Regions from separate parts of the Homo sapiens genome. Here regions 2 and 3 are each linked to region 1. Evidence: fine-mapped expression QTL. A gene starts in region 1. Each other region holds a variant in brackets. All regions are shown on one strand. Distances are between the middles of the regions.

Region 1 (5,000 bases):
GGAGCCGCCCAGAGGCCAGGGCAGCAGCAGGAGGGTAGACAGCTCAGGTGCCAATCTGCCTGAATCAGGGCTGCCCAACAGAACCCCCTAAGAGGCCTTGGCCTAATTCCCTTTTCTGGCATTCCTCTGGTCAGGAATTTTCAAGGTGGCCTCAGGCAATTTTGCTTTTTTGCTCCAGGCGTGGGAGGAAGAGGGTGGGGTATGGAAGACTTGGAAATGATCAGCTCAGAGGAGTCTTCTGCTGCAGAGAAAGCTAGAGACAGGGTTCCATACGATTCCAGGCTTCGGGAAATAGGGAAACAAGAACTGGGTTTTGCAAAGAGCCAGAAACACTCAGGAACATAAGCACGCGTGAATCTGAGGCATTGTTATGACGGCTGTTTGCAAGCACACAGCTAAGAGAGGGCCACTAATCCTGCCTCCGGGTCAGGAGCTGATCTGCATCTGCGCTCCGAACAGATGTGTGCCCCCATTCATGCAGACGCACGTGCACGCACATGCCACACAGCCATGGGCCCTGACCTTCACCCAACGACGCTGGCCTCTGCAGGGGAAGGAGCAGATGGAGCGGCGGCACCTGGCACAGGACCTATGCCCAGGGGATCCGGCTTTGCCCCTTTGATGTTGAGAAACCAAAGCAGAATGAACCATCACAAGGACAGCTCCTGGGGGGAGGAGAGGAAGGAACATGGATGGAGGAGGAGGCGGGTGGAGAAGAAGATACAGGGAATGACCTGGACCCAAGGGGATGCTGAGGTCAGAGGTTGAATGTTGGGTACCACACAGCCTCCAGAGTAAGGCTTTGGGGCTCAAGGCATCACCCTTCTCTACTCCCCCCACCCCCCCCATATGACTTATCAAGGAACTCTAGCTGGGATGACCCTTACAAATGCCCTTGTTGGCTCACGCCTGTAATCCCAGCACTTTGGGAGGCTGAGGCAGGTGGATCACCTGAGGTCAGGAGTTTGAGACCAGCCTGGCCTCATGGTGAAACCCCATCTCTACTAAAAATACAAAAAATTAGCCGAGAGTGGTGGTGGGTACCTGTAATCCCAGCTACTCAGGAGGCTGAGGCGGGAGAATCACTTGAACCCGGGAGGCAGAGGTTGCAATGAGCGGAGATTGCGCCACTGCACTCCAGCCTGGGCGACAGAGCCGAGACTCCGTCTCAAAAAAAAAAAAAAAGAAAGAAAACGCTCCTGTTCCATGGCATCCAGTGCCTAGAATCAGGCTGAACCAGGCTCCACGTGGCCCCACGTGCCTCCCCCAACTCCTGCCTGGGAGATGTGCTGAGAGAGTGGGAGGGTCCCACTCACGTGGGCCAGGAAGGGCGAAATCCACTATGTAAGCCCAGGAGGACCCTCTTCCTAATCCCTGAGAGCTTTCGGGAAAGGTGTCTCAGGGAAGGGTGGGGAGAAGGGGCGGTGCCTTTCTAGCAACGGAGCAGGAGCAAGGTGCGGTGGTGGGGGCGGGGGGCGGCTCTCGGTTCGCCCCAAGCCCCCCCACACCATTACCCGTGATCAGTTACGCATCCCCCGGGGCCATGCAAGAGCAATCACATGATCCAGAGAGATTTGGGAGCGAGGGGGTGGAGAACTCGAGAAGGTTTGTTTTTTTTTTCTTCTGAGGGTGGTGGTGATGATGAGGGTGGGGGTGGTGATGAGGCTGGCAGGAAAGATTGCTGAGCCCGGGATTTTCAGCTCCCGCATCCAAACGGCCCCCGCGGATATCTGCACCCCCCGTCTCCCCTCCCACCCGATCCCACCCCAGCACCGAACCCCTGGGCCCTGAACCACACATGACCCGGTGCCCCTGGGGTGGCAAACTCGGGTGCCAACGACTGCTCCCAAAACGGCCTTTCGGCTTCAGCCTGGACAGAGAAGCTGCCGGTCCAGGGGCGGGGGCAGCACCCAGAAGGGCCTCCCTCCCCTGAGGCTCGCGGAGGCCGGGTTCACAACAGGTGGGAGGGGGGACGCAGCTCTCGGCTCGGTCCGCCCACGGTCCCCGCCCCCGGACCGCAGGAATCCTCTCTGGGGACCCCCCGCCCGCGCCCCCCAGACCAGCCCGGCTCCTGGGTCCCGACCCCGATCCCGATTCCCAACCCGACCCCGATCCGGACCCCGATCTCGCCCCCGCCCGCGCTCCCCGGACCAGCCCGGTGCCTGGGTCCCGATCCCGATCTTGGGGTCCCGATCCCGATCCTGGGGTCCCGATCTCCATCCTGGGGTCCCGATCCCGATCCTGGGGTCCCGCCCCCGCCCGGCACACGTACTGCTGTAGAGGGTGTCGATCCAGGACAGGCGCGGCAGGCCCCGGTGGCTGAGCGGCTCCATCCCGCGGCGGCGGCTCGGTCAGATCCGAAACCCGACCCTCATCGCGCAACAAAGGAGGGAGAGCGGGCGGGAGCCGGGGGAGGCCGAAGTTGCGAGCGCGGAGGGGCGAGGAGGCCGGGAACCAGGTCCCCGGGAGGAGCGCGGGGCGGCCGGGGCAGGGGCGAGGGCGGGGCGGGAGCCCCCAAAACCCTCCCGAACCCTCCCGGCCCCAGCGGCCGCGCCGAGCCCAGCTGCGGATCCCGGAACCGATGAGCAACTTCGCGGGGGGCGGGGCGGGGGTGGGGCTTCGTGGTGGGGCGGGGCTTTGGTGCGGGGGCGGGGCTTTGGTGCGGGGGCGGGGCGGGGAGGGACCAATCGGCTCGAGGCTCCGCCCTCCGCAGGACGCCCCCGGCCGGGCTAAGGGGGCAGCGGGGCTCCGGCGCTGGGCGAGGAGGGGCCGCGGGGGTCTCGGGGGGTCTCCAGGCGGCGGCGCAGACCCAGGTCCCCCTCGTCCCCCCCGCGCCGGGCTCAGCAGGATCCTGGCGATCCGCAAACCAGGTGCCGTGGGGGGCCCGGGAGCCCACAGGGGTGACATCACCTCCCGCCCGGGATCTCCAAGCGCGGCTTCGCGGGCGGGAGCGGCGGCCGGGCCCCTCCCCAGCCAGACCCGCTGCGGGACCCACGGGGTGAACGTCCTGCGCGCCGCGGGACGCGCCTCTCTCCTCCCGAACCTTCCCCCGCTCGTCCCTTTCCACACCCCTGACCTCTGAGCGCGGCCGTTCCCGCCACACATGGAGGGGGGCGGGTGGAGACCCGGGAGGACCGAAGTCACGGGGGCTGTGGGGCCAGGACAGTCCCACATGTGCCCCTCCTGGGCGGAGGACAAACTGGAGCCAGGAGAAGCCCCAAGGGCTCCACGCGTTCCCCTCCAGGACCCCTCCTGGGGACCCCGAGCCGCGGCCTGGAAAGCCCATCGTGTTTGCATCATCACCTAGAAATGGTGGGAAGTCGGGTCAAGAGGCCTGAGAAATGACCGTTTAGAGACGAAATTCCCTCTAAGGAAGACCCCCTCGCCCAAGGGCAGTGAAGAGATTGGGGGCCCCATGCCTGTCTCCTGTGGGCTGATTCTGTGGGAGCCATGGCAGCTTCCCCACAGACCTCTTTGGGCCAAGCGACCCTGGAGCAGGGAAGGACAGGAGGGGAGTCAGGCCAGGGGGGTCCAGGGCAGTGGGGCTGAAGCCCCTTCCTGAACCCAGGGAAAGGGAAGCAGTGGGGCCCACCCAGGGGGCCCGGTACCCCAGATAGTGACATTTCAGATACCGGAGCTGTCTCCACCCCACCCCATCCCCAGGCAGCTTAAGGGGAAAACTTCTGGGAGCCCAGCCCTACAGAGGCCTACCAGGAAGGTTAAGTCAGCCTGGCCTTTGCCGGGGGCAGTGTGGTCGGCACCCGCAGAACGCTGGAGGGGTGTGGGGGTCGGTCCTCATCACTCCAAACAGACACACACACATCTAGTTCTTAAGGGGAGAAGCAGCTCCTCCCCCAGGATGCTGAGAGGAAGCCCCATAAGCTGCTTGGGCAGAGGCCTCTGCAGCTGCCCCAGGGGAGATGGGGGTCACCCACTCATCACAGGCTGGGGAGCCCCTGGGAGACGCACAGGATGATGCTCTGGGTGGGGAAGCCTCTACAGGTGGCTGCAGCAGAAGTGGTTTTCAATATTATTAGCCCGTCCCTGCGTCCCCAGGGCTCCCTCCGCCCCAATCCTCCTGGCTCAGGCACCAGCGCTGTCTCTTGCCGCCCCTCCCTGCAGCTGTCACCCTCCCACCGTCCCTGACTAGCACACAGGATTGGGAGGGCCAAGCAGGCACCTGGAGCTTGGCAGGGAGGGGGCGTGCATCTCCAATGAGACGCTCCAGAAATAGAGCTTCGGCATGGGAAGGGAACGAGCAGGCTCTCGGAGGACCGCGAGGCCGGAGGAGCCATGAGGGGCCAAGGGCATCTCTTCTTCCCACCTGGAACTCTCGGAAGACAGCCCAGGGGAAAGGTGGAAACGGGCGTGAGCTGCCGCCACCAGGAGCCACCAGCCCAGGAGGCAGCAGCACCGTCCCCTCCTCAAAACAACAACAAGCAAGAACGCTCGGGCCCTCTCCCCACACTGTGGGGTTTTCCTGATGGCCACATCCGGCGCTGACTGTGAGGGAGCTATGGATGTATGCTTCTGCGTGAGTCACATACATTTGCGTACATTTTACATTTTTATCTACAAAGGCTTGAACAAGCTATTTTCAGCATCCTCCAAGCTAAAATGTGGCAGTTGCTTTCCTTCGCGTTGCCATAGTTTGCTTTTTTCTGTCTACATTCTGTCCAATCCTGGCACTCTCGGACCCTCCACTCCACAACACGATAGAGGGTAGAGGGAGAGACAAATCTTGAGGGCTCTACAGAGGAAACTTCTGATAACGAACACAGAACACCGACTGTGTGCCCGGCTTAGCGTTTCGTTCACTAGCGTGATCTCACCGTGAATGTCACTGTTATCTCTGTTTTCTCCATTTTCCAGGTCAGAAAACCGAGGCCCTGAGCAGCTGAGTAACCCACTCAGAGGGTAAGTGAGGGCTGGGACTTGAACCCTGGCACTCTGTTCATGCTCTTTTTCTGTTTGTTTGTTTGTTTGTTTTTGAGACAGAG
Region 2 (5,000 bases), 78 kb before region 1:
CCTCGGCCTCCCAAAGTGCTGGGATTACAGGTGTCAGCCACTGCACCCAGCCTTTTTTTTTGAGGAATTTCACTTCCGTCGTCCAGTCTGGAGTACAGTGGCGCACTCTCAGCTCACTACGACCTTCGCCCCCAGATTCAAGCAATTCTCATGCCTCAGCCTCCTGAGTAACTGGGATTACAGGTATGCACCACCACGCCTGGCTTTTTTTTGCATTTCTAGCAGAGACAAGGTTTCACCACATTGGCCAGGCTGGTCTCGAACTCCTGTCCTCAAGTGATCTGCCCACCTGGGGCTCCCAAAGTGCTGGGATTACAGGCACTGAGCCACGGCGCCCGGCCTGCACCTGCACATTTACACAGTCATTCCTGGGTAACATAAATGTCAAGTCCCCTGGGACACTGACAGCATCTCAGGGTTGACGTGTGACAACACCTCACGTCATGGCAAGTACTTAAATGTGCATCTTAGAATTCTTGTTAAGAATGAGCTTCCACAGATCCACACTTCTGCGTCTCCCTTTTCTGACAATTACCTTATGTCTCAGGCTGCAAAATACCCAAAAGAAAGATTGACACGCCACGATCACTCTGCATAACATCCAGACACATCTAAGGAGCACTTTCTTCCAAGGCAAAACCACCTCACATCTGTGTAGTACTTTTATCTTCCGAAAACATTTTCATATTCCCCTCCCAATCAGACTCTCACAACGATGCCTCCATCTGGGAGGGGAACTGAGGCATGTTACCGAGGGCTGAGCTTGGCCTGATGCCTCAGAGCTGTGCCGCTTCTCAAAAGAACACAGACAGGCCGGGCGCAGTGGCTCATGCCTGTAATCCCAGCACTTTGGGAGGCCAAGGCGGGCAGATCACCTGAGGTCAGGAGTTGGAAACCAGCCTGGCCAACATGATAAAATCCTGTCTCTACTAAATACAAAAATTAGCCAGGACTGGTGGCGTGCACGTGCAATTCCAGCCACTCGGGAGGCTGAGGCAGGAGAATCACTTGAACCCGGGAGGCAGAGGTTGCAGTGAGCCGAGATCGCACCACTGCACTCCAGCCTGGGTGACAAGAGCAAAGCTCCGTCTTAAAAAAAAAAAAAAAAAAAAAAAGAACACAGCCTCCCACCTCATATTTCCTGACACGGGGCCTCAGGATGGCACTAACGGTTCCCTCACCCAGGGAGGTAGAAGGACTTGGACACAAGACGGCAGAGACTTCTTAACTGGATTGATTGGGAATGACTGCCCAGAGCACAGCGTGGAGAAGGCGCTCGGCCCCCGCCCAGGCAGGCAGAGCACCATGATGGGTTCACGATGCCCTATGCCAGGGTCGTGGGTGACAGGTGTGTTTGCCATCTCTAAGCCGGGTGTGCTTCTCCTGCCTTTTGAGAGCTGGAGCTGAGAGGCACAGGCCCTTTCTGGCAATGACCCGGGCTGCCCGATGCCCAGCCAGAAGCAGACCAGCTGCAGACTCTGTCCACAGGGAGGGACGGGTACGGTCCCCTTTCCTCTCCAACTCCAAAAGCAGCTTCAGAGCATGACATCACCCAACACGGGCGGGGGGACCGGAAGGCCCCAGAGCAGGGACTGTACTCACCAGCAACAGGGCTTCCAGCTGGTTAATGTAGATCTCTTCGCTGGCCAAGAACCCCGAGAGAACCAGCTTCCTCATCTCCAGGCCTTTCCCTGCTTCCACCTGCACAAACGCAAAGCACAGCCAACAGCTCATGAGCAAGGAGGCCAAAACCCTGCGTGGACGGTCTGCTTCCCTGCCCTTCCCCCCCGACCTTTATTTTTTTTTTGAGACGAAGTCTCGCTCTGTCACCTAGGCTGAAGTAAAGTGGCACAATCTCGGCTCACTGCAACCTCCGCCTCCCGGGTTCCAGTGATTCCCCTGCCTCAGCCTCCCGAGTAGCTGGGATTACAGGCACCTGCCACCATGCCCAGATAATTTTTGTATTTTTAGTAGAGATGGGGTTTCACCATGTTGGCCAGGCTGATATAGAACTCCTGACCTCAGGTGATCCACCCACCTCAGCCTCCCAAAGTGCTGGGATTACAGGTGTGAGCCACCATGCCCAGCCATTATGCCAGACTAATTTTTTTTGTATTTTTAGTAGAGATGGGGTTTCACCATGTTGGCCAGGCTGGTATAGAACTCCTGACCTCAGGTGATCCGTCCGCCTCAGCCTCCCAAAGTGCTGGGATTACAGGCGTGAGCCACCGCGCCCGGCCCCCCTTTCCCCTTTCCTTTTATTTTAAGCGACACTTTCATAGGGGATAAAAGTCAGATATTATTATAAAAAATATACAAAACATGCAGAAATATAAAAGGAAAAGACAATCACCCATATTCCTCCTGTAACATCTCGTTTTGCTTCCCTCAATCTATTTTCCACCTGGGTTCTCGAACCGACTTTTCCTCCCTCTCTTCCTCTCCTCCTGCCTGTCCCACACACCAGAGCTGGATTCAACTCCTAAGAGTGCCACCTTGCCCGATGCTTGCCAAGGACCGAGTATGAATACCGCAAAACGCGAGTACTTGGGGATTCCACTGGGCTATGTGTCCATTTATTTATTCATTCAATAAATATTTACTGAATGTCCACCAGGCCCTATAGATACCATGGGAAACAGACAGTGGCCCCTGTTCTCAAGTGGCTTAGACTCTA[G/A]TGGGAAAGACATTTATTTTTTCTTTTTTTTTTTTTTTTAGAGACGGAGTCTCGCTCTGTCGCCCAGGCTAGAGTGCAGTGGCGCGATCTCGGCTCACTGCAAGCTCCGCCTCCCGGGTTCACGCCATTCTCCTGCCTCAGCCTCCCGAGTAGCTGGGACTACAGGCTCCCGCCACCACGCCCAGCTAACTTTTTGTATTTTTAGTAGAGCCGGGATTTCACCGTGTTAGCCAGGATGGTCTCGATCTCCTGACCTCGTGATCCGCCCGCCTTGGCCTCCCAAAGTGCTGGGATTACAGGTGTGAGCCACCGCACCCTGCCGGAAAGACATTTAAAAAACAAGTAAAGATTCGGCCCTAGACTGGGACATGGGGCCCACCATATCCTTTATGAGCCACCTGCAGTGGCCCGGATGCCCGTCCCTACCCTTCCAGTCTTTCCCACAGCCAGGACATCGCTCAGTCTCCCCCACACGCAGGAGAACCAGCCTCCTCATCTTCAAAGGTCTCTAGCTTTCGGTTCGTTCTTTACCTGCTGCCTAAAATGCCATCTTTCCCTGAGGCATCGTGGCCACAGAAGGGGAGTGAGAGGGCCGGGGAGACAGGGTAGTGGTGAGGGACTGCTTGGAAGATGCTACACTGGTAGGTTTGAAGACAGAGGATGGGGCCACGAGCTAAGGAATGCAGAGAGCCTTTGGAAGCTGGAAATGGCAATAAAATGAACTCACTCCCCTAGAGCAGGGGCTTCCGATCTTTTGGCTCCCCTGAGCCACACTGGAAGAAGACGACTGTCTTGGGCCACACATAAAATACAATAACACTAACGACAGCAGATGAACTAAAAGAAAAATATATAATGTTTTAAGAGTTTACAAATTTGTGTCGGGCCACATTCAAAGCAGTCCTGGGCCGTATGGCCGCAGGCTGGAAAAGCTTGCCCTAGAGCTTCCAGAAGCAATGCAGCCCTGGAGATCCTTTTTATTTTAATTAATCTATTTATTTATGTATTTACTTATTGAGACAAAGTCTCCCTCTGTCGCCCAGGGCTGGAGTGCAATGGCATGATCTCAGCTCACTGCAACCTCTGCCTCCCAGGTTCAAGCGATTCTCCTGCCTCAGCCTCCCGAGTACCTGGGATTACAGGCGTCCACCATCACACCCACTAATTTTTGTATTTTTAGTAGAGATGGGGTTTCACCATGTTGGCCAGGCTCGTCTCAAACTCCTGACCTCAGGTGATGCGCCCGCCTCGGCCTCCCAAAGTGCTGGGATTACAGGTGTGAGCCATGGAGCCGGGCCGAGATCCTTTTTAGATTTCTGTATAAGAGAATAAATTTGTGTGGTTTTAAGCCCTTAAGTTTGTGGCGATTTGTTTCAGCAGCATTAGAAAAGCAAGACAGACCCCACGCTTCAGGCAAGGGCAATAGTTACTTATTGGCGGCTTCACAAATTCCAGGAACTGAGCTTAGCTATCTTTGTGGTTCAATTCACCGGAGTCTCAAAACCTGGCAGGTGTTATCATCTTCCTGAGGCACCGAGAGTCGGGACTGCCAGAGGCCTGCACAGCCTCCAGCACACGTAGCCCCGGGGGACAAGATCAGAGCCTGGAACAGCCCCCAGCTCCAGCCCCTCCAGGTCAGACCCTCAGGGGTCTTCCTGCTGCTTCCCAGCCTTGACAAATGGGAACTCATCCCCTGTGCTGGGGGCTAGCACTCCCTCCTGTTCCCTGCCAACCAAGGTTTTGCCTGAGGGTTTAGCAAATGCCACACCGTGAGCTGTAACTGTAGAGCTGGTTGGACTAGGATGGGGGGAAGAAAGGGATTTGCAGCCCCAGCCACAAACAAGCTTCATCCCCCCTGGCACGAGCATAGACCCTGGAAGCCCTGTAATCGCCCATTTCTGCAAGATCCTCCCCTCAAGACTTCCATTCATAGTCCACTCTTGAAAGGCTGGTTCTGATGGGAAGACAACTCAGGAAGACCCTCCCTCAAGAGGCAACAGTCAGCCCCAAGAGTCCTGCTCTGGGCCCCGTTCACGCTGCAGTTTTGGCTGAGATTGGAGCAAAGGCGTTGGAGAGCGTACGGATGGGAAATTAGCCTCGGTGCACTTGGCTAACAGGAGACCCGTTGCTCAGTCACCACCAAAGGAAGGCCTGTTCCATCTCCCATCTTTTCCAGCTTTCCTCAGACTCCACAATTCCCAGTTTAGAGCCATGAGGAAATTCACATTGTTTCTTCAGTCTTTGCAGGGCGTCTCTTGTCTCATCAAAAACCAGGCTCACCACTCACTCACCCATTCCCACCGGGAGCCAGGCACTGGGAATA
Region 3 (5,000 bases), 69 kb before region 1:
TGGCTCTTGCCCTTTGCAAACACCCTCTTGCCTCAGCTCGGAGACACCAAGTCCCTGTCTCCTGGCTGGGAAGAGGGTGGCCCCTCTCTTGCGGTTGCCGTGGAAACGGGGGATTCCTGCCCACCCGCTCCAGGGAGGCGGCGAGGCTCGGGCTGACAGGCGCGCCAGGTGACTCCTGGCACAGCCGCCGGAGCCCTGAGCTGGGCTGGCCTGGAGGGGGCGGCCACCACTGCCCCGAGGACACCGGTCGGGGAGGCAGGCCCGCCCCTCTCCCCCGGGAACAGCTGCCGGGGCCGGGACCCTCCGCCGAGGGCTTCCACCCGGCCGCGCGCTCTGCGCCCGCATCAGCCATTTCTCCCGCGCACCTTCGGCAGCGCCGGCCCGGCCCCCCCCAGCGCCCAGGGCGTGTCACGCTCCCACCTTCACAGCCACCAGGAAGGGGGACCCTGAGCCGGGGCTGGTCGGGGTTCCCAGCTCGCACTCCTCCAGGAGAAACACATCTTCGTCCTCCAGAACCTTGTCCAGCAAGCCTATCGCCTCCTCTTCCTCCTCCATGGCAGCCGGAGCCCGCGGAGGGCAGACAGGAAGCGGGGTCCACGCAGCGGCGGCGGGAGGAGGGAGGAGGGAGGAGGCGGGCGGGAGGGGGGGCAGGTCTACACCCGCGCGCCCGGCCTGGGGCTCCCGACCCGGGACTGCATCCCGGACCTAGTCCAGCCCGCTCCGCCGCCGCCGCCGCCGCCTCGCGCGTCCTCGCCCGGCGAAAGGGGGAGCAAGGCCCGGGCAGCCCCTGACGCCGTGCCCGGCCCGTGGCGGAGGCGAACCCGCCGCACAGCAGCCCAGCGCCCTCCTCCGTGTCCCGCCCGGCCCCGCAGGGCCCGCCCTTCCCGGGCTCCGGGGCTCGGGCTCGCGCTCGCTCCGAACACACAGGAAACGCGCGTCGCGAGGTGGAGCCGCCCGTCCTCTGGGGTTGCGGGGCCGCGGCTGGCGGAGGCTTCTGCGGCGGAGGAGGAGCGAGGAGGCCGCGGCCGGGCCGGGGTGGGGTGGAGCGGGGAGGCCGCTTCCCAGACGCATCTTCATTCCCCGCGCGCGGCCGAGCCAGGAGCCCGGCGAGCAGGGGCGACCCCCAGAGCCACCCCGGAGTCCCCATGCGCCGGAGCCCCCTTCCGGAGGGGAGGCCCCGGCCCGCCCAGAAGCCACAGCCGCGTCCCGCCGCCGCTGGAGGAGTCAGGCTTTGCAACAGACAGGCCTGACCTGCCCCCAGGCAGGAGCGCGGCGCCACCACTGTCCTGCACAGGAGCGGTGGGCGTCCCACTCACAGGGACCAGGATCCCCCTCCTCCAAGCAGCCCCCCTCCTCCGAGCAGTCCCCCCACTCACGGACGCTACTGACACCAGCACCCCCACCTCCTCTGAGCAGCCCCCCCACTCACAGACCAGCCCCCCTACTCACAGGCGCTGCAGAGACCAGGACCCCCACCTCCTCTGAGCAGCCTCCCACCTACTCACAGGCACTGCTGAGACCAGCACCCCCACCTCCTCCAAGCAGCCCCCCCAGCCACCCCACCGCAGGGAGCCATCCTGCAAGGGGAGTGCACACAGAACCCAGGACAGGCACCATCTCCGGCCCTGCCCACTCCCAGCCAGCTTCCCCTGGCTTCTCCAATGGTTGCAGAACCCCCAACTGTGCAGGGAGTGAGGCCACATTCTGGTCCCCCTGGCCCTAGTTCCCAGATGCACATACACCTCCTTCCATGGGAGGAGGAGTCCAGAGGAGGCCCTGGGAAAAGCTCTTTTACAACCCAACGATGGAGCAAAGGTTGCAAACGGCACCCATGAGGGTGCGGGTGAGGCCTGCGGGTGAGGCCAGCCGGTGAAGCGAGCCAGGTAGGGCAGGGTGAAACCACCACTCACTCCAGCC[G/A]ATGGCTGCTGGAGGAAACGCAAGCTCATGGCTGCCTGATCTCTGTTCAAAATAAGCTAAAATCTGGCTTATTAACAGGAATGCTCCTGATTTTAAAACGATGGCAAATAATTAACATTTTAAAACAACATGGTGCCGTCTAAATGAACCACACCTGTGGCCCGAGTTCAGGCCACAGCCCCCCACTCCCCCCAGAATTCTTCAGAAGCTCTGGGCTCTAGGTGGGGCTCATGCAATTCCATTGGCAGCAGAGAAGCTGCCCTCCCTGGAGAGAGGCTCCATCCTGTTGCAGAGCTGAAATACAGAGCAGGGGATTGCGGGGTGAGCCCTTGAGGGGCCCCAGGGCTAACAGCCTTTGATCAGGGAACTGTGCCACCAGGGTTCAACAGAGGCACACCCCCACCCCACCCATCTCCTTCCAGCCCCTGGTTTTCCCCTGTCCCTGCCTGGGTGGGTTATAAATAGCCAGGGCGCATCTGAAGGGCCCTTTCAGCCACAATTCCTCATTTGGTGCGGGCGGGTGAGGCTGTGGCGAGGGCTTGGGAACGACCAGGCCTGGCATTCCCCAGGGCACAAGTATGCCAGCTCAGGGCCTGGTACCACGGGTTCTTCTGTCTCCCGCCCGGCGGGCTCCAAGTGCATGGCATGGGCTGCCCACATGAGTCAGACCTGCAGGTGACACGAAGAAGGGCCTAAAACCCCACAGGCCCCTGCTGTGTTCCTTCCTCCACTCAAGAGGACATGAGGTGCCCTTGGAAGTCTGCCAGGATATCCTCGTCCCCGTTCCCCACACCTCTACACGGCATGGTGAGACTGACGCCCACTTCTTCCCAAAATCCCTGAACCCCACACAAGTGACTCCCTGAGTATCCAGGGCCTCTCTACTCCACCCTGTCCCCGGTGGCTGGAAATTCCAGTGAGTAATGAGAGTGCCCCTCCATCAGACACAGACTCCACTCACAGGCCCTCGGTGCCCCCCTGGAGGGGAAGTGACTCACCAGTCCCCACAGCTTCCCTCCCCTTCCCTGACAAATGCCCTGAGCCAGCCCTGGACCTGAGCTCCACACTCCATCTGCCTCGGCCTGGCTCCTAATGTTCTCCATAGAAGCAGCCTGCTTCAAAGGCCCCCCCAAACGGTTTATTCCAAAGCCAGAGGCCTCCCTCTCCGACTCTTTGGCCTCTGCAGTCTAGAGTTTCTCCAAGCCCTCAGCTGCCCTGTTGATGCAGGCACTGCCCCGACCACTCTCTGGTGTAGGCTGGCCCTTCATTCTCCCGCCTCCTGTAAATGTGGAGTCACTTGCTTGGGCCCAGCCTCAGCCCTCTGCTCCCTTCCCCCAGAGAAGCAGCCCTTCTCCCTTCCAGGCCAGTGGTGGCCCGCTGCCAGCTGCAGCCCTGGTGTCTTGCTGGGCTCTAGGTCTAGCACCTGCCCCGGCCACTGGGTCTCCTCACTTGGAAGCCCAGCCACGGCCCTTCCACTCCACACATCTGGACCAAAGGACCCTTCCTCCTTCTGAAACAGCTTCCCCTTCCGGGTTTCCACTTCTGTTAGTGCGGCCGCCATCTTACGAGTCTTCCTTCCCTCAACCCCCACATCCCTTTTACCAAGTCCTTCGGTTCTTCTTTTCCTTTGCCAAAGCCACCACCCCACCAAGCTTTAGAGCCTCTTACACCCACACGACCACACGTACTTCCCCACTTTGGCTCCTGATCTTGTCTGTCCATCTGTCTGTTCATTCATTCATTCATACCCAGAAAAGGCCTGGCATGGCACACATACGAGGCTGGGAGACGGGGCCCTTGCCGTTCTCAGGCTCTCGATCCGTCTGGGGTGAGGACGTGTGAACACACGAGGCAGTGTTCTCGTTTACCAGCCACCCTGGGGATGGAGGACAGTGGCACTAACGCTGCCTGAGAGTGAAAGCTTCACAGGACAGTGGCTTCTGAGTAGCATCTGGAAATAGGGAAGGGTTTCCAGGCAAAGAAGAGAAGGCCCGAAAGGAAAGGGTTAAGCAGCTTCAGCAACCCGGTTGCAGTGGCGCACCTGAAATCTCAGGTACTCAGGAGGCTGAGGTGGGAGGATCGTTTGAGCTCAAGAGTTGGAGGCTGCAATGAGCTATGATCGCACCACTGCACTCCAGCCTGGGCAACAGAGCCAGACTCTGTCTTGAGGGAGGGAGGGAGGGAGGAAGGAAGGAAGGAAGAGAGGAAGGAAGGCAGGTTAAGAAGCGCTGCTTGCTAGAGGACAGAAGATGAACTTGGAGAAGTGGGCTGAACAGCATCATGGAGGGTGAGGGGCATAAGCACACACCACACCTAGCTACTGTTTGAAATCTTTCGCAGCCACTGAGATTTCTGACACCATCAAGTCTAAATCTCAGTCTCCAATGGTTGACTCCCCACAGTCTTCCCCCACACCCACCCTCCATTCCCTCCTTCCCTGACCCAATCAGCAAGCATTTGTTAACGCCTGACCCAATCAGCAAGCATTTGTTAACGCCTGACCCAATCAGCAAGCATTTGTTAACCACCTGACCCAATCAGCAAGCATTTGTTAACGCCTGACCCAATCAGCAAGCAGTTGTTAACCGCCTGACCCAATCAGCAAGCATTTGTTAGCCGCCTGCTGTGCACCAGGCAGTGTGCTAGCATCGGAATGCAGCCATGGACAGGGAACCCCGTGCCTACCCTCGCGGAGCTGACAGTCTCAGGGACAGATTGACCTGGTGACTGACTCCCAAGGCAGTGTCAAGGGAGGGGCAAGGCCGTACTGGGGAGGGGAGCAGTGTCAGAACTCTGCAGCTGAGGTGCCACTTTTCTGGAAGGGATAACATGGAAACACCTATTGCGATTTTTTTTTTTTTTTTTTTTTTTTTTGAGACGGAGTCTCGCTCTGTCACCCAGGCTGGAGTGCAGTGGCATGATCTCAGCTCACTGCAACCTCCGCCTCCTCGGTTCAACCCATTCTTTCGCCTCAGCCTCCCAAGTAGCTGGGATTACAGGAACCCGCCACCAGGCCCGGCTAATTTTTGTATTTTTAGTAGAGATGGGGTTTCATCATGTTGGCCAGGCTGGTCTCGAACCCC

Direction of the effects. Alleles are on the strand shown, and positions count from the first base shown. SD is a standard deviation of normalised expression in the study named. Not every link is listed here.
With allele A in place of G in region 3, the expression in subcutaneous fat of the gene that starts at base 2,587 in region 1 is higher (moderate effect, 0.49 SD a copy in FUSION).

The links. PIP is the estimated chance that this variant, and not a neighbour inherited with it, causes the effect.
Region 2: its variant is fine-mapped to the expression of ABR in nasal epithelium (TOPMed, PIP 0.99).
Region 3: its variant is fine-mapped to the expression of ABR in subcutaneous fat (FUSION, PIP 0.95).

The regions. Positions count from the first base shown.
Region 1 is chr17:1,177,395-1,182,394 of GRCh38, forward strand. ABR (ABR activator of RhoGEF and GTPase) reads right to left here and starts at 2,587. Exons shown (of 23, transcript NM_021962.5): 1 at 2,273-2,587. The coding sequence starts at 2,333. It overlaps ABR-AS1 (ABR antisense RNA 1), which reads left to right and starts at 4,233. Exons shown (of 3, transcript NR_187271.1): 1 at 4,233-4,534; 2 at 4,873-4,917. RefSeq lists an enhancer at 2,628-3,394.
Region 2 is chr17:1,099,035-1,104,034 of GRCh38, forward strand. ABR (ABR activator of RhoGEF and GTPase) reads right to left here. Exons shown (of 23, transcript NM_021962.5): 3 at 1,603-1,701. Among named protein-coding and RNA genes, the nearest start is that of ABR, 78 kb to the right of the region's middle. The variant G/A (reference allele first, on the strand shown) is at 2,678.
Region 3 is chr17:1,108,514-1,113,513 of GRCh38, forward strand. All of the region lies in intron 2 of ABR (ABR activator of RhoGEF and GTPase), which reads right to left. Among named protein-coding and RNA genes, the nearest start is that of ABR, 69 kb to the right of the region's middle. The variant G/A (reference allele first, on the strand shown) is at 1,918.